Homo sapiens: one gene and its partner. The protein of the gene in region 1 purifies or fractionates together with the protein of each later gene. This does not show direct contact. Each region holds a gene or a part of one and is shown on either strand. Other genes may lie near its edges. The genes, in order: THUMPD2 and SPDL1.

Region 1 (10,670 bases):
CTTTTGAAACAGTTCAATCCAGTGTTAGCACAGATCTGTGATAAATGCTTGATTAGAGTTAGGAAAGAGAAACTAACTCTAATTACGGACCTGTGAGCAGAAAGATAAAGGATTGTCCCTAAGAGGAGACTTGAAAGCAATAAGAAAGTGTATGCCGCATGGAGAAGAGAAGGAAAGGGTATTACAGGCAAGGAATCTCTGTGCAAAGGCACAAGGTATAAGGAAGCTTGATTTACATGGAGGATGGCAGGTAGTTTCAGTGTAGTTGGGACATAGAGAAAGTGGTAGAAAATTAGAAACAAGCCATGAAGTGCCTTGTTTAAGTATGTATAAGGAAGTTTGATTTACATGGGGGATGGCAGGTAGTTTCAGTATAAATGGGACATAGAGAAAGTGGTAGAAAATTAGAAACAAGCCATGAAGTGCCTTGTAAATATGTTAAACAGCTTGGATGTTATCCTTAAAGCAATAAGAATTTGAAGCAGAAGAGTGATGTGATCAGATTTGTGATTTCAAAAAAATTACCAAGAAAATTATATTTTTAAATGAAAGGGAAATAAAAAGAGAGAAGGAGAGGATTTAAACTCTTGGAGGTAACAAAAAGGCCATGAAATCAAAAAATAGTTAAGGAGTCTAGAATAATTTCAGATTTCTGATTTGAACAATTAGTAAATACTGGTATTAGTCACTGAGATACAAAATGTAGGGAAAGAAAACAGTGTATTCAGTGAAAAATGTCCAAGTAGATATTTGAAGTTACAGATCTAGAGTTCAGGTGACAAGTGTAGACTGAAGAGGTAGAGTATGGTACCCAATATATGGATAGTACGTGGCACAAGAAAATGAAGAAATGTATCAATATATGAAATCCAGGATAGTGTATTCAGTTTATACCTGTTGACTTTGCACTACTTATCTTCCACATAAAAATGTTCAAGCACATATTTGAAGATAAAGATCTGGGGTTCAGGTAACAAGTCTAGGCTAGAGATATAGATTAGGACGTCTTTGTCTTGGTGGTACAAGGTGTACAAGAGAAAAAAAAATGCACACATGCAGAGAAGAGGATCAAAAACCACATTTATTTTTGAACCGTGTACATTAGCTAGGTTCTCTGAAAGTAAAGCATTATTTTTATTTTCAAGGAGTTTATTTCTGAACGTGCCTTCTTCTGAATAATTTTGTTATACTGATATAATGGGGCCCTTTTGTTGAAGTAATGAGATAATTTTGCCCAGGTTTAAGCAAAATGTGAACATTCACTTTTGTCAAATATTAATAGAATTATGTCCCACAAAAACTTCTATTAGCAGAAATATATACATAGTTTTTGAAACTTTGAAAGGTTCCATATAAATTCCTGCTGCTTAGAAGAGCATTTTTTCATATATATGGACAAAGCTGGTTTCCCATACTGCGTCTCCCTTTTTGGTATCTAGAATGCAAACTCTGTTTTATAGTTTTGGCATCTAGAATGCAAACTGTGTTTTATAACTTTGGTATCTAGAGTGCAAACTGTTTTATAGCAAGATAATTGCTAAGCTTACCCCGTAGAAGCAAAATTCACTGGCCAAAATATTTTATAGTGTTTCTACCTGCCAGTTTACATCCCTCATTCCAAATGTATATATACAGTACTGTTTACAATGTGAATTGTTGTTTCTTGAAAAAACTTTATTAAAAAGCCAAACTCCCATGGGTTTGCCATGTAGAACTTCCTCATTATAATAGCAAGTATACAATTACACTGTTTTATTTTAAAGGGGTATATCATTTAGTTCTAAGATTTTAAGAGGCTTGCAATAAATACAAAAACAGGATAAGTTAAAGTCAAAGAAAGATGAGAGGCAAAATGGTGAAAGAAAGAAATGTTTAATATTCACATACCTAGAATTCTGTTGAACAACCTTAAGGAGGGTTTGAAGAAAATCATGGCTTTCCGTAATGTTCGTAGAAGACCTCTTTTGCTGGTTTTGGAAGAAGCCAACCCCAAGACAAACCCACACAAATTCTTGACATCATGTCTTCGTACCTTACCAACAAATTGTAGAAGTGAACTAGAAAAGCTTGGAAAGTTGTAATTTCCAAGGAGATTCTGCTTGTTCATTGCATTAGAAAGACAGAAATAATAGATGACATTTTGAAAATTTCTATCAAATCTGGAAACATTGATGTGATAGTGGCATTGATGAGGTGGAGGATAAAGTGTGAACTGATGCTTTTTGGAGACCAGTGAACTCATTTGGGAGATGTCTGCTTTGGCCCATCATCCAGTAAATTATTTTAGACAATGCAATGTCATGCTTCATTTCATCTTTTGGGAAAGATGCAAATAACCAAAAAACAAACCTACAAAAGGGACTTTTTATAGAAAACAGATTTTAAGGGTTAGCATCCCTTCAGTTCTACTTCCCATACTACATTTATATCACAAAATAGTACATTCCCCTTCATGACTTCAAATAGCAAAAAAAGGTCTACTCTGTATGGGAAGACAGGGAAGTATAAGAAAGATTTTCCTCATGTGTAATTACATTTTTATACATTAAATACGTGAGAGTGTAAATTTCAGTTGTCTAAAAATTTACCTTTCTGAAATTCAACACTGGCTGGGTAGACAAGGTGCCCATTAGAGAAGCAATTTTTGTAATAAGACTGAAACATTGTCTAACTTAGGGAATACTTTAGTGTATGTTGGATGAATATGTTTAAATGATTCTCAGATTTGGACAGGTAAATCATTTTTATATCTTGTTGTTCAATGTGTAATAATATATAATCAGATTCTATCCTTTGTAGGGTTTCCCTAGCCAGCAGAGCTTACATCAAGACAGCTGGACTGCGATCTACAATAGCGTGGGCAATGGCATCTCTGGCTGACATTAAGGTAAGAAAAATGTTTTCCTTCCTGTTAATAGCAAGGTTCTTTTCATAATTAACTTATACAGTCTCTTATTGATGGATATTTATGTTACTTGCTTTTTCTTTTCTTGACGCTTTTTCTTTAACTTCTTTTCTTTTTGCCATTGTACTTACAAACTGCTGCAGTAATGCTTTTATATATTATTGAACTTCTGAGAGTATTTTGGCTCTGAAAAAGCTGAGTCAAAAGTTAGCTACATTTCATTATTTCTAATGTTTTGTGTCACAGTTAGAAAATGTGGCCTGTAAAACCTCCTATTCTTAAAGTTTTTGTCTGTGACCAAGATCTTGGTCAATTTTTGTAAATGTTCTATGGACATAAGATGACTTTATCTTCTAGTGAAGAAATGTTCTCCATTATTTTTACTTACTGTGTGTTTCACTGCTCCATTTTGAAAGAAGTTTTTGAAATCTCATATTGTATTTTTTTAAGTTTTTGCATTTTTATGAGTTGTTGAATTATTCAGCTGTCATGTGGCTTGGTATATACATGTTCATGACTATCAATACATCATTGTGAAGTGTGCCTTTTTGTTACTTAAGTCCTCTTTATCTTGGTTAAGTTTAAATTTAAGTCTCACTGTCTTACTAATATTTTCACTCCTTTTTGTTTGCATCAGCCTAGTATTTCTTTGCCACTGCTTTTTTTTCAACTTTACATATTTTTTACAAACACATAGCTATTTTTACTCCACTCTGATGGTCTCTCTTTCAGTGAGAGAATTCAGTAAATGTTGTGACAGATAGACTTGATTATATTCTTCCTGTTTTTATTCTGTTCATAACTTCTCACACTTTGTTTCCTTCTCTTATTTTCGCTAGTTTGACCAAGTTACTTGCTAATCATTTCATTGTTCTCTTTGTGGTTAGAGATTTTACTTCATTGTTCTATTCCATTACAGTCCTTTTCCCAGCTCTCTTAACTAAATATATATGACTCTACTCTTAATTTAAAACAGAACATCAACTACTCCCTCTGCCAAGACACACCGTTTTTACCAAGGCACTCCAATTTTCCCCAACTTCCCCCTCTTCCCTGTCATAAGATGAGACCTTTAGAGTACTTTTTTCTCTTCTCCTCTCTACAGTGAGACCTTTGAACATTTTTACCCCTTTCTCTCCCAAGCCCCAACTACTGGAGAAGCTAAGTTATTTATTATGTACCAGAACTTTCCTTGAGTATGCTCTTGGGTTTCAAAAGTTCTTAGCACTTACACAGCCTATTCTTAGTCATTAGATAGAATTCCACGTAATACACACATATTTTTATATACACACACACTAAGATACATTACAAGGTTTATTGCTTTTTGCCATTTCTCTTCTTCTCTTTGTCTTGCCCTGTTTGAGGCCTCTGCTCTGGTTTACTTATTGCTTGGGTAAAGTCTTGTCTTAGGTATTTTCCTCAAATGTGGTATTTAAACGATATACTGTCTGAATTCTTTGTATCTTCAAATTTCTTCCTGTTATCCTGGGTATCTCTATCTTGGCTGGGTATAGGATTCCTGAATTGCAGTTCTTTTCTCTCAGAGGTCTGTAGATGCTGTTCCATTGTCATTTAGCTTCCGGTGACACAGATGAGCAGACCATGCCAGTGGGATTTTTTCTTTTCCTTTATAACTACTTTGTTCCTTCTTTTTGGAAACTTGTAAGGTGTTTCTCTTTAATCTTAAAGCCAAGGAATGTCACCAGAACATGCTTATGTATATGTCTTTTCTATTTAGCCCAGACCTTGTTGAGTCTTAGATTCTGGCCATCACTTTCTGGGTGGGAAGCTTTGGGCGGAATACTTAAGATCTTTGTGCCTCAGTTTCTCATTTGCAAGATGAAAAGAGTAGTAATATCTCATGGGATCATGACAAGATTAAATGAATTAGCATTAATAAAATGATTAGAACAGTGCCTAACATACAGAAAGTGTCTAAGTATTAGCTGCCATTTTGGTAATAATAAATAATTATACCAAAATTGTAGTTAATAACTAGAACTATAATTACTATTTCAAATATATAATTATAAAAATTATTATTTATTTTTACTTCTCCGGCCTAAGCACTTTTTCTTCCATTATTTAATTATTGCCTCAACTATTTAGTGAATTTAACTTTAAACTACTCTCTTTTTCCTACTTCTGAAATTCCTATTATGAACATGTTAAGCTTCCTGGCTCTATCCTCCAAGTCTCCTATCCTTTTGACATGATTTCCCTCTCTTTATATTTTGGCCCTGCATTTTTAGTTATTCTTGAACATTATCTTCCAAATTACAAGAGTCACAGAGACATGCTCTATTTTAATTTATTTATATTTTTAGCTTAAAAAAATCCTGACTTTTTAGCTTCAAAAGGTATGTGTGTCACATTTGAGTATCTCTGAAAGCTCTTCTTTTATTCAAATATTGATCTGTGTTCTCCAGTAATTAGTAATTCTATTTTACTGGGTGTGTGTTCCGATTATTCTGCCTATTTACTCTAAAACTACTGAGGGACCTCCTCCTTTTTTTTTTTTTTTAGATGTGCCATTGGTTTTTGTTTGTTTTTGTGTTTTGTTTTAGCTCACTAGGACTAAAATGTGACTGTTAAGTATTTTAAATGGCCAGAATCCTATAAATGGTAAAAGGCAAATGGATCTCTGGCACCCCAGGCTCAGCAGTGTAAAGAGAATCTGTCAGTCCTGCTGAGATACCTGGAGGAAGCTTCTCTATTCACTGACCTCTCTTTGAGTCCATAGATCTCTGAAGACCAAGCTCTTCCCTAATTCCACTGATTCTCCCCTCTGGGTTCCACTGCTGTTCTCTAATCACTACCCAACCCACAGCAGGGAGGCCCCACACATGTTCCTTTTTCTGGGACTGTGACAGAGCCTAGGGCTTCTCTTAGCGCCAGTTGCCTCTAGGTCTGAGCATCACTTGGCTCAGCAGAAGCAAAAAGCTTAGAGTTGAGAGTGGAGGAGGGAGCCTCTTTCAGATTACCAGGTACCCAGAACCCATGATTTTCTCTTTTTTTGTTTGATTTAAATGTTTAGTTCAGATTTTTTTAGTATAAAGAAAGAGGTATGGTTAATTTTTTCCCAAACTGCCAGTGGTTTCACCAGAGTTTGTATTTAAATATAAATTTATATAATCACCTACACATTTGAAATGTTACCTTTGTTTTAATATAAACATGTTTTTCAGAAAAGTCAAAAGTAAATGATCAAAAATATACAAAGATAATGCTTGATAAAACTTTTCCTTACTGTGTATTTGCCCTGGGACTACAAAAAGTAAGAAATGTCTCTCCAAATGTGACCACTGGCAAAGGAGGTCTGTTAAAGAACCTAGGAAATGGCATAGTAGAGTTCTTTTGGAGGGAATGTGGTAGTGACCCACAATCTAAGTGACCCCAGTATCCAACCTGATCCATTTCCCTCTTTGGAGCTTGGTACCCAGAGCAGTACACAGACAGCTCAGCCTTGGGTAAGGCCAGTGCCACTAAAAATGAAATTTAAAAATGGGATGTTTGTTATTTATCATGTTTACTATAAACTGTTCTCCTTCCTACATATCATAACAAGGAAAATCAAGTTCTATAAATCTTAATTGTTGTTGTAAGTATACAGAAATACATCTCTACCTCAGCCTGTGTCTACAAGTGTCATGGCAAGAAAAGGTCCTAAGGTAAAGTAAAGCCATCTAAAGATACTTCAGGTCAGATTATGTCATTGAACACAGACCATGGGAGAGAAGGAGCACAGCGTATGGCACATTTGAGATCCTAATAAAAATGGGTTCTCATGCTATTAACAATTTTCAACAAAATTTGCATTTAAATTTTTCCTTCTGCTCCTTACTGCCCCTTCATGGGGGATTTGTGTGATATTCTCTTTAAAATTTAGTACCAGGGGAAGGCTTCTGTCTCTTGAAGAACATTTTGTTTCTTTCCATTAGGTACCATATGGCTCTGACTGAAACCTGGCTGTGCACTGAGGACTCTGCTTCCTCTGTAGACATATCAAGTGGTGGATGTCTTTTCTCCCCTATCTCGAGCACGACTGGGCCTGACAGTGGGGTACGTTCCTGCTTGCTCCTCCTTGCCCCTTCTAGACAATTGTTTTCTCCCGTCTGCCCAGAACCTCATAGTGCCTTTGAAGCACATGCCATCAGATCACCCCAGTCAGAGTTCTCTCCCTCTCATTCCTGTAAGAGTACAGACCATTATCCCGTCATGATTCTTTGGTCTCTAACCACTCAGTAACCTGCCTCTTCATTTCTTGGCTTCCCTATTCATCTGCTGTAGTCACATCCTAGACCTTGTCATACCCAGAAGGGTATCTCTTCCAAAAATCTCAGTTTCTTTTTTTTTTTCTCCAATACCATTTATTATTATTATTATTATTATTATTATTACATTTTAGCTTGCATTTACTAAGTGTCATGGAAATATTATACTCAGAGTAACAGAGCTCCGGAGAAAGACCATTAACTAAGAAAGAACAGTTTCACTTTCTTAGCATGTCAACTTCTAGTTAGCCTGCTTGCCTCCGCACCACAGATGCTTGTCTTCTTGTGATTGTTACCGTATAATTGTCAAGCCAAAGCTTGAATTTACACGTGGCATCGGCTTGGTATTGATAATTTGTATTCAGGAATCTTGTTCTTAACCACCTCCTCTTTCCTGTTCACTTCCTCTGCTACCCGAACACAAATCTTTAACCCCACGGGGCCCTCCAGTCATTTGACCAGACCCGTGTTCCTTACCACCTGTGCTCATCCCTCCTTCACAGCTTGTATTTTAAAAAGTTCGATCATTATAGTCATTTCCTTGCCATTTTTTTTTTTTTTTTGAGATGGAGTCTCGCTCTGTCGCCCAGGCTGGAGTGCAGGGGCGCGATCTCTGCTCATTGCAAGCTCTGCCTCCCAGGTTCACGCCATTCTCAGGCTCTCTTCCTTCTTATTTGACTTAAATAATAGAATCACAAGAGAACTTCTGCATGTTCTCCTCACCAAGTCTACCAGCATACCAGAATCTATGCCCACATACTCTGCCTTATTGTCATTACAATAAGGGAGCTGTCCTTGTTCCACACTAATACTTGTGTGCTGGATTCCATTGCCTCTTGTAGACTTAGGGATTTTTCCTTCTACTGGGTCATCCCCATCAGCATGTACACCTGCTGAAATATCTTTCAACTTAAAAAAATAAAAACCCTCCCCTGAACCCATCTGTCCCTTCAGCCACCACCCCTTTAAAATGTAATCTTTCCTCTTGAAATATTGATTCCTCAAGTTTTAGGTTTCTTTTATAGTACGTACTATGGTAGTCTTAATAATACCAAATTAATATTTCTGTCTGCAGGCTGGTGCATTTGTTTTAGATCCAATGTGTGGACTTGGAACAATACTTTTGGAAGCTGCTAAAGAATGGCCAGTAAGTTCTAAAGTTTGGTAAAGCAAGCAATTTATCTACTTTAATCAGTATATGTAGTATAATCACCAATTATTTACAAGTAGAATGTCTATTTGGGGATTATTTTTAATTATATGAGTTATTATTTACTCAAAATAGATGATGAGGGACTAATGAAATTGCTATGTTGTTTCTTTAAATACTATGATAAATTTAGGAAAATATGAGAGAATTCTAATCATTAGTCATGACCTAGATTATACTAATCCTCAAATTCTTTAGACACTTGTCATTGTAAATGTTAACAGATTTTTAAAATTTTAACAAAAACTTTACATTTTTTGCTACTATGATTTTAAAAGAATACCCTAAATGTGTTTTGACCTGAATTTAAAATCTACTAATTTCACTTGTCATTTGAGAAAATGCAAGTCGATTTTCTTAACTACATGAAATATGTAATAATTTTATTTATGCTTAAAATATTTATTTCCCCATAGGATGTGTATTATGTAGGTGCTGATGTCAGCGACTCACAGTTACTAGGTACTTGGGACAATCTGAAAGCTGCAGGCCTTGAGGATAAAATTGAATTACTTAAAATCTCTGTTATAGGTAAGATACTAAAAATGCAAAACAATTGAGAAAAGGAACAATGTAAATATATTTAGAATCATAATATAAAACAAGTCTCACTATGTAAAGGTTGGTTTTACCCTTTAATATATCTGTGGGACTAATACTCAGTTTACTTCTAATAGTCTAACCTTTTTATTTTCAAAGTGTTCATAATTGGGAAGCAACAATTCTATAGTTTTCGTAAGCATGTAAAGCATGACTTCTTAAAATGTGTTTGTTAAAAAAAGAAAAAAAAAGTGTTGCATCTGAACCATTTCTCGTATCAGAACCAGTGATCGTTTAAAATAGCCATAAAGAAAGCAGTGTAATAATAATTCTTTGAATTTCTTTTGAATAAATAATATGAAATGTTCTGAATTATCTTACTGTCTTGCCTCACATTAGACAGTATCCGTGAGATACACAGGAGTAAGCTAACCACCCATCCCAATTTGCTAAACCAGGACTTTTAGTGCTAAAATCAGCAAAGTCTGGAGTAAACCAGGACAGTTGGCCACCCTGTGAGGTAGAGGGAAAACAGTACCCTGTTTAATGAAGGGGAATCAGCAGTGACACACATAACTAGGAATCAAGTCTATTGAGGCCAATCAAAATAATATTTTCCTGAGATCCCTGGCGTTTAGACAATTTTTAAAAACTATTCCTTGTTTTTTTCTTATTCCCCCAGTATATGTCTCTCCCTTAAATAATGAGTGAATTTAATTCCCAGGTAAGAACATTGTATTCTGTTGACAGTGATAGGTAGTAGATAGGTCCCAGTATCAGACCTATAATCAGGAGGAATAAAATACGTTTAAGAAATTTTATTGTAGTGGAAAAGTAGTAAAGATGAGTATCAACAGAAGAAAATACTAGGATAACTTGCATAAAAGCATAATAAAGCATCCCCAAAGAAGAAATTGTCTTGTTGATTGAGATCTCATAGTTGTTTGCTGCCAGTGACTTTTATTTTTAAGCCTTTCTGCCAAGGTTTTTAATAGGACTCTGTGCAGGAGACACAAGTTTGTAGAGCAAACTAAGGGGTGACTAGACTGCAAGCTTTCATGATCCCTAATTTCTTTAAGAATGCTATTTCTTTGAAACCTTTAAGAAAACTGAAATTGGTTCCTAAATTGTTCCAGAGCAGTGAGTTTTCAATCCCTTTACATTCTCCAAAGCACCTTGTAGGCATGAAGGAGGGAGTACTGAGTTGGCCATTGGACCTCTGTTGCACTCCCAGCTTCACTTTTATGTATTTTCACTTTAGGGGGCATTTTCTAAAAGATTTCATTTAAAAAACAGTCAGAAGTGCTCCACTGTTTGTGTGTGTGTGCTTTTTAAAGGTTCTCTGTGGTACCAGGTAACTGCATAAATCTTAGTTTTGAAAGGATTCCTCTTAGACTTTAGTGAGGGAAGGACAGTAACAGAGAGACTAGAAAGAGACTGTTGCAACTCTAGTTATAATCCAGGTAAGAAATGACAGTGGCCTGGCCCAAGGTGGTATTCAAGGAGATGTCGAGAGAAGGTCAGATATACATCTGGCAGACAGAGCCAACAGAATTTGTTGTCAGATTGGATGTGGACTATGAGAGAGAGAACATTCTAAGCTTTCTGGCTTGAGCAGCTAGAGGATTGAGTTGTCGTTACTGAGATGGGGAAGACGGATGGTGGATCAAGTTAGAGTTTAGGACCTGTTAAATTTCGCACGATTATTAGACTCTAAGTGAAGATGTCAAGTTAGTAC
Region 2 (9,480 bases), on another chromosome or scaffold:
TTACGATAAAATCTGGGATCAGAGTATATGCCTCTAAATTCTTCCAGACGTTTCATTAATCTAAGAGAAAGGCTGCCTTACATAATCATATAGTCTAAAGCTATATTATGAATGAAGTCATCCACCTAAAAAAAACCCATTTTTTAATTAGTTAGATGCAAGTTAGGTCAAAAAATGTTTCAGCCTTCAAACTAGCTCTTAAGAATTATTACCAAAACATGTAAAAATATGCCAGAAAAAAAAAGAGAAAACCCTGAGAAACACATGCCATAAAAATTACCTTCATACTCTCCATTTCTGTCAGCTCAATTTGAAGAGCCAGCATCTCTGAAGACATGCTTTCCTGCACACGTTCAGACATTACGCGCAGTTCCTCTGATTTACAAGAGAGGAGTTCCTTCTGATGATCTACTTGGTGCTTCAGCTGCTTTTCACTAAGCCTGGCTTCATCTAATTCCACTTTCAGTTTTTCTATCTAAAGCCAAAAAAAAAAAAGTCATAAATTGAAAGTTATTTTCTTTCTAAAAACAATCACTGATTGAACTGATTGAACCAAACTTACTGAATGATGATACTATTGGAGTTTCCTATTTGCCCAAGGTTAGGCATCTTTTAACAGCTAGTGACACACCTTGTTTAATAAACATAGAAATAATCCATGAGTAATCGGGGTGGGTCTGGATGCCTCAGAAGCAATCTGGAGGCACTATGATGCGGACCACTTGGCTACTGTGTGAAGAATGACTGGCATGAAGAGAAACAATGGAAGCAAGCAACCTGGTCAGAAGGCTACAGCAGTAGTCCAGGAAAGAGATGATGAAGGTCTGGATTGGAGTGGCAGTAGCGTCATAGATGTTTTGTAGGTCAAGTTCTTAGAACTTGATGAATTAAATGTGAAAAATAAGAGAAGAAAAGGTATTAAAAAAATCCAAATTTTGGCATAAGTGATTTGAGAAAATCAGTAAAACAAAATATTTCACTAATGTACTCTTTGCTCCACCAAAAAAAAAAAAAAAAAAAAAAGCCATCTCTATAATTAGCCTTACCTCAGTCCTGAATACTCCCTTTATTACTCTTTTTTGTTTAGGTGATGAAAACTATTGCAAAAATAAAAATAACAACCAGAGGGGGAAGAAAGCACATCATTATCAGTCATTAGGGCCTCAAATCCGACTAGTTTCAGACAAGCTGGATGATATTATCTGTCAGAGTGGTATGCAAGATGATTATATATTACATGAAGGTATATTTAGATAGCTATGTTTGTTTTAGTGTATACTGGGAAAAAATAAGCAAGCTTAAATATGTAATTTTGGCCAGGCGCAGTGGCTCAGGCCTGTAATCCCAGCACTTTGCGAGGCTGAAGTGGGCGGATCACGAGGTCAGGAGTTAGAGACCAGCCTGACCAACATGGTGAAACCCTGTCTCTATTAAAATACAAAAATTAGCTGGGCGTGGTGGCGCACACCTGTAATCCCAGCCACTTAGGAGCCTGAGGCAGGAGAATCGTTTGAACCCGGGAGGCAGAGGTTGCAGGTGAGCCGAGATCATGCCACTGCACTCCAGCCTGGGCGACAGTGTGAGACTCTGCCTCAAAAAAAAAAAAAAAAAAAAGGAAAAAAAAATACTTTCATTGATGTTTCTTAAAATCAGTAAACATTAAAAGAGAGTCAATGAGAAATTAAGTAATAGTATAGGTGGTATACAGAAAAAGAAAAATCTTAGAGGCTGCTATACAAGAAGCTGAAAATTGGGTAACAGACTTCTGAGAAAGGAGGACAAAAGTCAGGCAAGTTTTGGTAGACAGTGTCTGGAAAAGTCAGAGTATAGACTATACACAAAGCAGATCCATGATAAAAAGTTCTGGATTCCTCAGAAGCAACCTGAAAGCACTGGCTAGCTGGGAAAAGGGAAAACCACTGACCAATCATTTATCTTGCGTTTATGTTTGAAATGGAGCCAGTGTAACATGCTGTTAGACTATGTAGTGATTCAGTAACACAGCCTTTGGAGTCAGACAGCCTCAGTTCAAACCTAGATGGAGAATTTCTAGTTCTTGAATTGTGTCCAATTTACTCAGTCTGTCTAAACACTGGCTCTTTCATCTGGTATATGGAAATGATAATGGTACCTTTCCACAATATTATTGTAAGAACTGGAGCACATGTATTAGTTTATCCTCAGTAAACAAACTATAAAGTGTCATTTGTAATGCACATTAACTAGTAAGAAACTACTGGTCTGTTTTACAGAATTACAAAGCATACCACTGACTGCAGGGAAGGCTAGGAGACGAGGCTTTCTGCAAGGGGCTGCTGTACCCACTATCAGCAAGGAGGCCATGCTAGTCACTAAACTAAACCTTCACAAATATCCAGCAACCAAAATTAAATAATTGTATTTAATTAATAGGATATAATTTATACAAGTCCCTTAGACAAACTCTTGTATCTCAGTGTTCCCACCCCCAATATTAAGATAATGAAGACTTAGATCTTGGCTATTTTGCAAAGCTGACACTTAAGAAAATCTTTATCATCTAAAGTTTACAGATGGCTGCATAAATATGGAATATTTTGTGCTGAAATACGCAGATATCCCAACCTTAGTTTTTAGTTCATTCACTTCCTGTCCATGGCTTCTGCTTAGTTGTTCTTCCAATTTCTCCAGGTGCATTTTTTGTTGTTGTTTAATAGCTTCACATTCGCAGCTCAAACTTTCTAACATTCGACTCTTGAGTTCAACTTCTCTTTGAAGGGTATATTTTTCTTGTTCATAACTCTGAAAACAGATTCAATTACAATTCAATTACATAAAAATAGCCTAAAGCCATTACATACAATCAGTTTTCAACTTCAATTGTTTCATTCTTATTTCAAGCATTTGCTGCTTTCCAAATAACGAAGACATGTTAAACCTGGAATAACTTTGTAGTTAATCAGTCTTAATAAACCCCTGAGGTGTATTTCGAAACTATGTTAAACCCATGCAAGGGATACCTTACTGCTTCTGTGCCTTGTCAAGGAAGTAAAATGTGCTCCATGGTATGTCAACACGTCAAGTCAAGTAATCTCTGCTAACAACAAAAAAAGATTTAACAGCACTTAAGCTTTCCTCATGAGAATTATTAGTTTGATAATGAGATGCTCTACTTGTAGCTCTGAACACAATGTAGTAGTAATAATAGTTGAAAAAAAAGAAATACTGAATTAGCCTTTACTTTCAGAATGTAGTCATCTGAGAAATGTCACAAAAGGTCTATCAGAATGAATGCAGAGCTGAGACAAAAGGAGTAATTAAAAGGGCTTTTGCTTACTCACAGGGAAGTTTAGACATTAAAAATGTTACAAGTACGAACTCCTTCAAGAGGCTTTAAAAAATGATAAAATATTCCCCTCAAAAACCATTTTATTTTAAAGGAAGACAAAGAGTATTAACTGTTAAACACTGAAATTTGACAAGTTATGACTCAAAATGATTAAGTATAACAGTTTTATTTTCTATTAGTGATATTTGTAATCTTTACTTTGCCTTTATGACTTTGCACTCAGTTCTTGGTTTACAACAGTACTATGTAGAAACACAAAGGTTGCCATCACTAGTTATTTTTACCTGCTACAGATATTTTTTACCTGCCATATTTACAATGTTGAGATTCAAGTTTAAATATGTTACTGAGCATTTGCTAAATTACCCAGATTTATTCATTCATTCTTTTAAGAAATAATCGTGTGGCAGGCATTCAGGATAGTGAACAAGGCATACAAAATTCCCTCTCTCATGGAGTTTATAATCTAGAGATAATTAGCAATGCAGATAATTAAGAGTGGAATCAGGGCCGGGCACAACGGCTCATGCCTGTAATCCCAGCACTTCGGCAGGCAGATTACGTGAAGCCAGGAGTTCAAGACCAGCCTGGTCAACATGGTGAAACCCCATCTCTACTAAAAACACAAAAATTAGCCGGATGTGGTGGCACACATCTGTAACCCCGAGCTACTCGGAAGGCTGAGGTAGGAGAATCTCTTGAACCCAGGAGGTGGAGGATGCAGTGAGCCAAGATTGCGCCACTGCACTCCAGCCTGGGCGACAGAGTGAGACCCTGTTTCAAAAAAAAAAAAGAAAAAAGAAAAAAAAAGTGAATCAGGGCAACTTTACATTACATAGTAAGGGCTGACCTCTCCGCTGAAGTGACATTTAAATGAAAGCTGAAATCTGAGGACTCAACCCAAGAGCAGTGAGGGGTAAACAACTCAAAAAAAAAAAAAAGGCAATAGCTGGTGTAAAGCCCATAAGGGAGGACCAGTATAGTCAAGAACAAGGCAAAGCAGTTTGAGGTGAGGTCAGAAGCTTGGCAGGGGTCAGGTCACATAGGGATCTACAAACCCAAGGATGGAGCTCAGATTTTGTTGTAAATAAAATCAGAAGCTGTTGTATGGTTTTTAGCAGGGCTGTGGCATGACCTTTGGTGTGTTATTCCACGACCACTTAGACGCTGAGTGAAGAATGAATGGCATGAATGGCAACAATGGAAGCAGGCAACCCGGCCAGAAGGCTACAATACTTGTCTAGGAGTGATGATGGTGATCTGGACTACAGTGCCAGTAGCAAAGATACATGCTTTGTAGTCTAGTTCTTAGAACTTATTAATGAGTGAAATGTGAGAAATAAAGGGAAGATATTGACTAAAAGTTCTAGATTTTTGGTATATAAAGAAACCAAAAATATACCAAAAATCTTTGGTATATAAAGATTTTTGGTGTTCAAGAAACTGAATGCTATTATATTTACTAAATAAGCTAAAAAAAATCGTAAAAGAATATTTGGTTAACGGACAGGGAATCCACTCTTCTGTCTGTGTTAAGTTTGAGAAGTCTATTAGTGGGCAGTTGAACACAAACCTAGATTTCATGGGGGAACTAAGGGCTTGGTGTAGTGTCATGGGGCACTTAGATGTTTAGAGGTCTAAAACAAGTGAGGTCTTCTAGGAAGTGTGCAGACAAAGCAAAATCTGGTAGTAAATGTGGCAAAGAGAGTAATGATAACTTGATCTTTCAAACTCTGAATACACTAGGGTGGAAAGAATAACAGGAATTCATTTAGTTCATTCTTTTTTAACAGGGACGGGGCAGGGCGGGAACTAGATCTAAAATCTTCAGAAAAGAATAAACTACTACTACTATTAATTGCTAAACAGGACAAATCTTCAATAGCTAAGCACACTCTTGCAGACAGAGGAGTCCAGAGTCCTACCTCAGTCATGGTCATCATTTCATTACGACATTTATCCAATTGATTCTGTAATTCATTTTGACTCTCTACTAGTTGTAAACCATACTGTGCAGCTTTTAGTCGCTCTTCTTCAGCCTCTTTGAGCCTGCATCGAAGATTTGTGATTATATCTGCCTCCATGTTCTTTTCTTTTTTTTAGCCAACTGTAAATAGAGGAAATAAAACTACTTAAGCTTATACAAAAAACTCCATGCAATAATATCAATAACAGAAGAAACATATCTACTCAATACTACTGTCGTATAAAAACATTAAAATTTTCTTCCTGACTAATAAGTAGTCAAATTTGCATTCTTGTTCCAAGAGCAAGAACTGTTCTGACAATTCTGTTACTGATTTGGGATCAAAAATTAAAGAGTGGAATAGAATACATTTAATTTTGCTTCTAAACAGTTCACCATCAGAAAACTGTTCAGTTGTTGTATGCTAAGCTTCCAATATGTTAAGGTAAGTTTGGTCTCATAATTGGACCACTATCCATATAATCAAAATTAAGGGAATAACAAAAAAGTAATCAAGAAACCTCATAGTAGCAGGTATGGTGGCTCATGCTTGTAATCCCAGCAACTGGGGAGGATTACTTGAGGCCAGGAATTCGAGACCAGCCTGAACAACATAGCAAGACTCCATCTCAATCAATCAATCAATAGAAATAAGGTGGGGATGGTGGCAAGCCCCCGTAGTCCTAGCTACTTGGGAGGCTAAGGAAGGAAAATTGATGGAGTTAGAGGCTTCAGTGAGTTATGATCATGGCACTGACAGAGCAAGACACTGTCTTGAGAAATAATAATGATAATAACAATAATACCACCAGAAAAGGAAGGTCTGGGTACTATAAACACATAAAATATAAAAAGGCAGCTGTGAATAAGGCTCATAAGGTAAAGTAAGAAATATCATGTCTGTAATTTTTCACAACAGTGTTAACTTCCTGAATATATTAAATCTGCTTTCCTGGAAAGAGATTCACTAGTATTTTTCTAGTTATTCATAAAAGTATGCAAAAATAGAAACCATATCCATAAGAATTAAAGGATGTTGCTTTCATTCTAGATTTATAAACAAAGACTTAAACATTATATATAGAAACATTCCACTTTAATCAACCTTACTAATTATCCTTTACTATTTGGTCCCAGCCTCCTAAGCGAGACTCAAACTCACCTTTGCCTTCAAAGGGCACCAGGTCATTGCAAGATGTTCCCCCATGTCTCAAGTCAATGTAGTCATTCACTGAACGAGTATTTCTTGAATGCCTTATATACTAGGTTCCATTCTGGGCAGTTCAGATTCATTAGGGAACAAAATGGACGAAAAAAAAGCTCCTCCCTCATGAAACTTACATTCCAGGAGGGGAAGATAAACAGTAAGTAACAGAATATTAATAAATTAGAAAGGGGAGATGAGAAAAAATAGAACAGAATAAGAATCTGGGAAGAAGGGACAGGTGATGTAACCAGGAGGCAGAAGATGAGAGAATCAGCCAGGCAGCTATTTAGAAGAAGAATGTTCCAGCAAGAGGGGAATCCTTAAGGCAGGAAGAAGCCCAGGGAGTGAAATTTGGCTAAGAGATAGTAGAGAGTGGGCAAATCAGGCCATTATAAGGACTTTGGCTCCTACTTTGGGTGACATGGGAAGTCATTCCAAAGTCTGGAGTAGAGGATCTGATATAATTTAAAAGAATCATTTTGGCTGCTATGTTGACTAGTTTAGAAGGGGAACAAGGCTGGAAGCAGAGACCATGTGAAATGGCTCAGACTAGGGTGGCAGCATAGGAGGCTGTGAGAAATGGCCAGATTTTGAAGGTTTTGAAGGTAAGGTCAATATGATTTTCTGAAAGATATAATTTGGGATGTGTGAAAAAGGGAAAAGTAAAAAATGCCTCCAAGTCTTCTGGCCTGAGCACCTAGTAAAATGGAATTGCCATCAGCTGAAGCACTGATGTAAATAATGTTTTGGAAATAAAATCAGGAATTTGAGTTTTGAACATGAACTATGTCAAGTAGGCAATTGGATATATGAGAAGAGGAATCTTGGCTGGATATGCAAATTTGAGAATTATCAGTCTATAGAGGATAAAAGTATTTAAAGAGAAATGGACCAACGACTGAACCCTGTTATGAGGTAGGGAAGAAGACAGCGGAGAATCAGGAGTGACCAGTGAGGTAGAAGGAAAACCAGGAGTATGTGTTGTCCTGGAAGGCAATAAACAGTGTATTAAGGAGGTGGGAGTAATCAATCATGCCAGATGCTGCTGCTAAGGCAATTAAGGTGAGAGCAGAGAACTGGCCATTGAACTTGAATTCCTGGAGGTCTCTGGTGACAAGAACAGTTTTGATATCCAGGTGGGGGTGAAAGCCTAACTAGAATGCCTTCAAGAGAGAATGGTAGGAGATAAAGATAGCAAGCACAGGTTTGCTGCAAAGGATAACGGATAAACGGAGCAGCAGTTGGAGAGGAAGTAGGGACAAGTTTTTTTATTTTTAAGATGGAAAAAAATAACAGTGTTTGTAGGTCATGGGATAAATCCAGGAGAGAAGAAAAACTGATGATCTAGAAGACACTGGAGAATTGCTAGTGATGTCCCTGAATAAACAGGATGAAGTTTAATGTAGAGACTGGTTTTAATAGAAGCATGGATATTTCATTTAAGCAAAGTATATGAGTTTAGATGCTGATAAGCAGGTACAGTGGTGGAAGTCTGTGTAAGTAACCTTTTAACTGCTTCAATTTATCAATGAATTAGGAAGCAAGGTCTTTAACTGAGAATGAAGACAAGGGAAGAGATACAGGGTTTAAGAGAGAAAAAAAGGTGTTCTAGGTAATCCCAGCTTGGCAGTCACTGCTCTAAAATGCAAGACCTTTTCAAAGCCTGTACATGATACGGCCAGCCAACTAAATGTTGTACTGTTCACAATAACTTACATTCGTTGAGGATTTACCATTTGCCATGCTAACTGCTTCAAATATATTATCTCATCTAATTATCTTGATGAGCTTGAGTTAAGTAAATACTGTCATCTCAACTACCAAAATAAAAATAGGGTTAACCTCAAGACATTCCAGCCAGGCATATCCAGAGAAGCCAAAAAAAATTTGCTTTAGTTTATTCAAAAAATTTGCTGGAATTCTTATTGTGTGAGACATTGTGCTAGTGTTGACAACACAATGGCAACCTAAAACAATATTCCTGTCTTCTTGAATCCTAGTCTATTAGTAAAAGACATTAAATCAAGTAATTGAACTATCAAGTTACAAGTATGATAAGTGCAAGAGAGACAGATGTATGCTACCTGAGCCTGTAACAAGGGGGAGCTGTCCTAATCTGGGGGGCAGCGCGTAGAAGGGAACATGGACAAAAAAATTTTCCTGAGGAAGTAACTTTTCAGCAGAGGTCTAATGGATGAGAAAGAGTTAACCTATCAATCTACAAAGAGAGATAGCCGTGGTTGATTAAAAACTACTAATGTGTGACAGACATTGTGCTTGGTGCTTTATACACATTCTTTTTTTTTTTTTTGAGACGGAGTCTCGCTCTGTCGCCCAGGCCAGACTGCGGACTGCAGTGGCGCAATCTCGGCTCACTGCAAGCTCCGCTTCCCGGGTTCACGCCATTCTCCTGCCTCAGCCTCCCGAGTAGCTGGGATTACAGGCGTGAGCCACCGCACCCGGCCGCTTTATACACATTCTTATTCAATCTTCTCAACAACTTCAAGAGGTTGAAGGTATTTCCCTCATTTTACACATGCAAGCTGAGGCATAGAAAGTTTTAAGTAACTTGCTTAGGGTTACCCGCAAGTTAAGACGCGAAGTGTGATGGGAACTAGAATCTACCTAGAAACCATGGTGCTGCAACCATTTTTCCTGTCCTGCTTCTCAAAAATATAGCACACACAAAGCATTTGGGACACAGGAAACTCTGGGAATCAAACTGCCTGAGTTCTTACCCCGCCTCCACTACTCACTGGCTGCATGAACTTGGACAAGTTATTTAATTTCTGGTTTAATCATCTATAAAAACAAGCACAATAACACCCACCTAATCGGTTACTGAAAGGATTAAATGAGATAACGAATGAAAAGCAATTAGGGTAGAATCTGACACACGGCTGGGGCAGTGCTGTCCAGCAGAAATATAACGCGAGTCATGTACGTGATTTTAAATGTTCTAGGAGCCATCATGATTTA

What was found.
Region 2: the proteins of THUMPD2 (region 1) and SPDL1 purify together in Homo sapiens (affinity purification with mass spectrometry; 2 studies listed by BioGRID and IntAct, with this or other methods). This does not show direct contact.

Annotation. Positions count from the first base shown.
Region 1 is NC_000002.12:39,753,548-39,764,217, reverse strand, and holds part of THUMPD2 (U6 snRNA (guanine-N(2))-methyltransferase THUMPD2), read left to right. Parts: intron 1-2,799; coding exon 2,800-2,887; intron 2,888-6,849; exon of another isoform or gene 6,850-6,970; intron 6,971-8,257; coding exon 8,258-8,329; intron 8,330-8,808; coding exon 8,809-8,923; exon of another isoform or gene 8,924-10,670. UniProt on the Homo sapiens protein: Catalytic subunit of the THUMPD2-TRM112 methyltransferase complex, that specifically mediates the S-adenosyl-L-methionine-dependent N(2)-methylation of guanosine nucleotides, most probably at position 72 (m2G72), in the U6snRNA of the major spliceosome.
Region 2 is NC_000005.10:169,584,349-169,593,828, reverse strand, and holds part of SPDL1 (protein Spindly), read right to left. Parts: intron 6,631-9,480; exon of another isoform or gene 6,457-6,630; intron 5,457-6,456; exon of another isoform or gene 5,436-5,456; 5' UTR 5,413-5,435; coding exon 5,254-5,412; intron 5,231-5,253; exon of another isoform or gene 3,000-5,230; intron 2,782-2,999; coding exon 2,605-2,781; intron 476-2,604; coding exon 281-475; intron 1-280. UniProt on the Homo sapiens protein: Required for the localization of dynein and dynactin to the mitotic kintochore.